2 linked regions of the Homo sapiens genome follow. The protein of the gene in region 1 binds, or shares a complex with, the protein of each later gene. Each region holds a gene or a part of one and is shown on either strand. Other genes may lie near its edges.

Region 1 (2,973 bases):
TCTGAATGGTAATGATTTACAAAGAAGATTCTTTTCTGTAACAGCAGAAATCCGTCTCTGCTCTCTGTGGCGGTGCCAGCGACGGCAGGCTGTTATCGCCATTGACTGTGAAAGAACATCCAGTCTCAACCTGTGGAAGAAATATTCTTAGATTTCCTTTTAGTAGTTCCACAGACCGTTGTATTTCAGTTTCATCACATCATCACATAATAGGAAGTCACTGTCTATATTTTGGCAATATAACTTCTTAGGCGTGTTCTTCTTCCCTCACCTAAAAAGGCAGTGATACACACACACACACACACAGACACACACACACACACACACACACACACATACACAGTGTTTGCCTGCTCAGAGGTGAAGTTACTTTATCAACACAGCAGAGCCTGTGCCCAGGCCTGCCTGTGAGCTTCAGCATTCGTGTTTCTGACCAGAAGCTGGGAAGGGGCAGTGACAGCTGGTGAAGACTTGGGCGGGGCTTGGTGAGGACGCAGTGCCTCAGTGAGTTTTCTCTGCAGATGAGGCCTTTCCAGGCCAGCAGTTCTGTGAACAGATCAGCACCCCGTGGCATGCAGCAGGCTCCAGCACTGGGCGGGGATGGGCCTGTACTCAGTATGCAAGTCTTTCAGCCTGAAATAGAAGCAGCCAGTCCTTTCGTCTTATCAGAGTTAGGGGAAACTTCTGTCACATCTTTAAAAACGCCCTCAGTAACAGGATGATGGCGATGCCAGTGCCCATGAAGAGGGCGGCTGCAGCCTCACGTCCAGCAGCTAGACCCAAAGACCCGACTGATGCTCTCAATTTGTTCTCCAGCAAGGGCTCTAGGATGAAATCCTCTTTCATGAGTCATATGAAAGATGAAATATGTGGCACTGAGTTTTGTATTCAAAATAGAATGTTCTAACATCTGTTACTTTGCTGTTTTGCTTATTCTTGTGGAACTTAAGAACAAAGTGAAAAAACCTGTTGGTTAGTTGTTTTCAAATCAAATGTATTCTTCACTAATTTGTCCTTGTAAAAGGGCGCCCATTCCTAATGCAGGTGCACTGGCCGTGTGCACTCCAGGGTCCCAGCAGCTCTTGCTCCCTGGACACCTGCCCTGGTGGGCATTTACTAAGGGCCTGTTGATCTGGAAGGAAAAACAGACCCAACCCAAAGGAGATTAAGGTCCGGGGAATACGTTTGTGGGTTGTTCTTTTCTGAAACAATATTTTACTCCTTTTGCTTCTTTTTAGGGTATCGTGCAGCAGTTTTTGGTGTTACTGACGACCAGCTCTGACGAGAGTCTTCGGTTTCTTAGCTTCAGGCTGGACTTCAACGAGCATTACAAAGCCAGGGAGCCCAGGCTCCGTGTGTCTCTGGGTACCAGGGGGCGGCGCAGCTCCCACACGTGAAGCTCGCGGTCCTCCCAGGGAGCTGCGGGTGATGTTCGTTGCACTGCTAGACACGAAATTCCCATTGACGTCCTGCAGGAACTGCATGCTGCAGGTGTCCTGCCCTTCCGCCCACGAGTGCGCCATGTTTCAGCGGAGCGGCGTGTGGGAGAAGCCACGTCGTGTTTCACATGTCGGAGTCGAATGCATTTGTAAATCCCTAAGTCAAGTAGGCTGGCTGCACTGTTCACATTTGTCTCTAAAAGTCTTCATCGCTAAAAGATACCATAATTTGCTGAGGCTTCTTAAGCTTTCTATGTTATAATTTATATTTGTCACTTTAAAAAATCCATTTCTTTTAGAAAAAATTAGGGTGATAGGATATTCATTAGTTAAGATGGTAACGTCATTGCTATTTTTTTAACATCCTCTTTAGAGGTAATTTTTGTTAACATAACCAAAAATTAAATTGAAACAAAATGTCCCAACTAAGAAAATATATAGAGCATTTTATTTTTTTTTAGTGTTGTAAAATATTAACCTCTGTGAGATCCTTTGTATCTTAATGCATTACCTTTACACATATTTATTCTTATTTTCTCTCCTTTCAGAGTTTACATTTTTATATTTAATTTACTATTTCAGATTTTTAAAATAGTATAGAAAAAAGTAGGAGTGATAGAGAACAAAAATACTCTTATACAGTGCAACCCAAATACCGCGAATGCATCAGCTAAAGCAGCGTGTAAATAGGAGTGACGAGAAAGTTAATGGAGTATTTTATTTTCAAAGTTCCTGATAAGCATTGGAAAGAAATCGACATGGATAATGAAGATTTCCTTTTTCCTTGCCTATTTTTTCATTGTAAATATTTATATACTACTGACCAAGATGTTGGGGTGGGGGGGATTGTTTTTTGTAAAAATGTCATTATCAGGTCACATAAATCTGCCTTTATGTTGCATAAGTGAAAATTTAGAAAATTAAAAGCAATTATCTTTCAGATGCATTCGTTATTTCTTGAGTAGTTTATGAAGGGACAGTTTACTTGCTGGATTTGGGGGTTGAGGGTTGGTAGAATTTGATTTAATATAGTACAGCATATGAATTATTTAATCAGTGAAACCAGGAAAGTAGACTTTGTGTGACTTTTGGTATAGAAGCAAAGGCAATGTCACCGCTCAGGTCTCAGGAGCGGTGCTTTAGTTATCTGAATCCACCTCTGACTCCTTTAGGTGTGGATTACCTTTAAAACTAAAGGGGCTGTCAGGAATCCTGGCCATGCAGAAATGAATTCATGGCAAAGGCCAGAAATTCAATGTAATTTTAGTTTTGAAGTTCATAAAATCAGAAATTTGAAACAGGTTTTTCTACTGCAAGGTTTTTTAGAAATTATTGCATATTGTTTATCTCCACGAGAGGTTTACCAAGGTAATTGACCATGCAGCCAGCTTTTATTTTATTTTATTCAGAGAGTTGTTCCAGGGATTAATCCTCAGTAGAAACCACCCTAGCAAAGGCCCACCTCGATTTTAGGGATTACGATTCCATTGGAGTGTAGGAGTCACCAGGACTTAGGTCAGATTTGTGGGCTATG
Region 2 (2,941 bases), on another chromosome or scaffold:
CAGATACTCCTCAACTTACAATGGGTTTATCAGGATGTAAACACATCACAAATTGAAAATATTGACTAGGCACAGTGGCTCATGCCTGTAATCCCAGCACTTTGGGAGGCCGAAGCAGGTGGATCATCCGAGCCCAGGAGTTCAAAACCAGCCTGGGCAACATGGTGAAACCCCATCTCTGCAAAATATACAAACATTATCCAGGCATGGTGGTACATGCCTATAGTCCAAGCTACTTGGAGGCTGAGATAGGAAGATGCCTTGAGCCCAGGAATTCAAGGCTGCAGTGAGCTATGATCACACCACTGCACTGCAGTCTGGGGGACTGAGTGAGATCCTGTCTCTAAAACCAAAACAAATTTGAGGACAGGTGCGGTAGCTCATGCTTGTAATCCCAACACTTTGGCAGGCCGAGGCGGGCAGATCACTTGAGGTCAGGAGTTCAAGACCAGCCTGGCCAACATGGTGAAACCCCGTATCTACGAAAAATAAAAAAATTAGCCAGGCGTGGTGGTACATGCCCGTAGTCCCAGCTACTTGAGAGGCTGAGGCAGGAGAATGGCTCGAACCTAGGAGGTAGAGGTTGCAGTGAGCCAAGATCGGGCCATTGCACTACAGCTTGGGTGACAGAGCAAGACTCCGTCTCAAAAAAAAAAAAAATTGAAAATACCGTAAGTAGAAATGCATCAGGTTATAACCCAATAAGCCCATCATGAAGTTGAAAAATTGTAAATTGAACCATTGTAATTCAGATGCTTCTTGATTTAAGATGGGATTATGTCCTGATAAACCCATCATAAAGCCAAAACATCTTAAATTAAACCATCCTAAGTCAGGGACAGTCTGTAGGTAGTCCAGAATTGAAGTGAATTAGTGGATACCCAGCTGGCATCTACTGTAGAATTGACTGCTTACCTGATGTGTGTGGTAAGACCCCACCCATCTGGTATCAGAATTGTGTTGTGAGAGTGTGGCAGGAGAAACTGAGTCTGTTTATTCCTGTATACACACAGGGCTTCGTGCTGTGTCACTCCATCGCTGGGGGTACGGGTTCTGGCCTGGGCTCCTACCTCCTGGAGCGACTGAATGACAGGCAAGCCTGTGTTTGGGGAGAGGGCATTAACCCTGGTTCCCTGAGTAATGTCATTGCTTTTTTCTCTTGAGCTAGAAAGTCTGCCACTACCCCTTTTGAGTCATAGGGACAGACCCACCCAAGGACCATGTTGGAAGCTATTTTGGGGGGTGGGGGTTTACCTGTGGAGGGGAGGGGATCTACAGAGTTTGAAGCTTTCAGGCTTATCCTTTTTGGCTCTGAAGACTCAGTTCTGCCCTCACCCCTTTTGTACAAAATGGCACATATGGGCAGTGATGGAGGGGTCCTTCCGGTTCACTATGCCACCATCCTCTTTTCTCTCAGGTACCCCAAGAAGCTAGTGCAGACTTATTCAGTGTTTCCCTACCAGGACGAGATGAGCGACGTAGTGGTTCAGCCCTACAATTCACTCCTGACACTCAAGAGGCTGACGCAGAACGCAGATTGTGTGGTGAGCAAAGAAAGAGTTGAGGGGCTGGGTGTGGTGGCTCATGCCTGTAGTTCTAGCACTTTGGGAGGCCTAGGCAGATGGATTGCTTGAGCTCAGGAGTTCAATACTAGCCTGGGCAACATGTGAAACCCTATCTCCACAGAAAATACAAAAATTAGAGCTGGGTGCGGTGGTTCACACCTGTAATCCCAGCACTTTGGGAGGCTGAGACGGGCGGATCACCTATGGTTGGGAGTTCGAGACCAGCCTGACCAACATGAAGAAACCCCATCTCTACTAAAAAAACAAAATTAGCCAGGCGTGGTGGCGCATGCCTGTAGTCCCAGCTACTCGGGAGGCTGAGGCAGGAGAGTTGCTTGAACCTGGGAGGTGGAGGTTGCAAGGAGCTGAGATTGCAGCATTGCACTCCAGCCTGGGTGACAGAGCGAGACTCTGTCTCAAAAAAAAAAAAAAATTAGCCAGTCCTGGTAGCATGTGCCTGTAGTCCCAGCTACTTGGAGGCTGAGGCAGGAGAATCACTTGAACCCGGGAGGCAAAGGTTGCGGTGAGTCAAGATCACACCATTGCACTCCAGCCTGGGTGACAGAGCGAGACTCTGCCTCAAAAAATAACATAAAAAAAAATTAGCCGGGCATGGTGGCATGTGCCTGTAGTACTAGCTACATGGGAGGCTGAGGTGGGGGGATTGCTTGAGCTCAGGAAGTCGAGGCTGCAGTGAGCCATGATCACACCACTGCACTCCAGCTTGGGCAACGGAACAAGACCTTGTGTTTAAAAAAAAAAAAAAAAGGGTAGAGGACTTTGGTCTGTCTCCTCAGGCCAGTGAGTCTCATTCACCCCACCTTTCCTCAGCCCCTATACACACAGACAGAAGACCAACAAAGCCATACCTGTGGGCCAAATTAGGAAATAAGGTCCTGACTTCTAAGTTTCTTAGAATCCTTTTAGGCAGCAAAACTCTCAACAAAGTGAATATACCTTCCCCACACCACCACGTATCCCACCTTTGCCTACTTAATGCCCACTCATGCTTGTATTCTTAGCTCAAGGATAACTTTCTTAGCAAAACCCTTCCTGACTACTCAGTCAAGATCAGATTCCTATATGTGTATTTTAGGGAGTTAACTATAATTTTCTGTTTTATATTTAGTGTGCCTCCCTCCACGAGACTATAGGCCTAATGAAGGGAAAGACGGTGCCTGTTCCTCTCTGTGGTCTTCCCAGAGCCAGGCACAGTGTATGGCACATGTGGGTACTCACGTGTTTGTTTACTGCCCTGCGTAGTCCGAGAGTATCTCATGGTGCCCCAGAAACAGTACTTTTCTTTCTTTTTATTTTTTATTTATATTTATATATATATATATATATTATATATATTTATACTTTTTTATTTATAT

What was found.
Region 2: TUBGCP3 (region 1) and TUBG2 share a complex: the UniProt entries of both Homo sapiens proteins name them as parts of the gamma-tubulin ring complex.

Annotation. Positions count from the first base shown.
Region 1 is NC_000013.11:112,484,417-112,487,389, reverse strand, and holds the end of TUBGCP3 (gamma-tubulin complex component 3), read left to right. Parts: intron 1-1,238; coding exon 1,239-1,397; 3' UTR 1,398-2,379; downstream 2,380-2,973. UniProt on the Homo sapiens protein: Component of the gamma-tubulin ring complex (gTuRC) which mediates microtubule nucleation.
Region 2 is NC_000017.11:42,661,960-42,664,900, forward strand, and holds part of TUBG2 (tubulin gamma-2 chain), read left to right. Parts: intron 1-1,013; coding exon 1,014-1,093; intron 1,094-1,417; coding exon 1,418-1,544; intron 1,545-2,941. UniProt on the Homo sapiens protein: Tubulin is the major constituent of microtubules, protein filaments consisting of alpha- and beta-tubulin heterodimers. Gamma-tubulin is a key component of the gamma-tubulin ring complex (gTuRC) which mediates microtubule nucleation.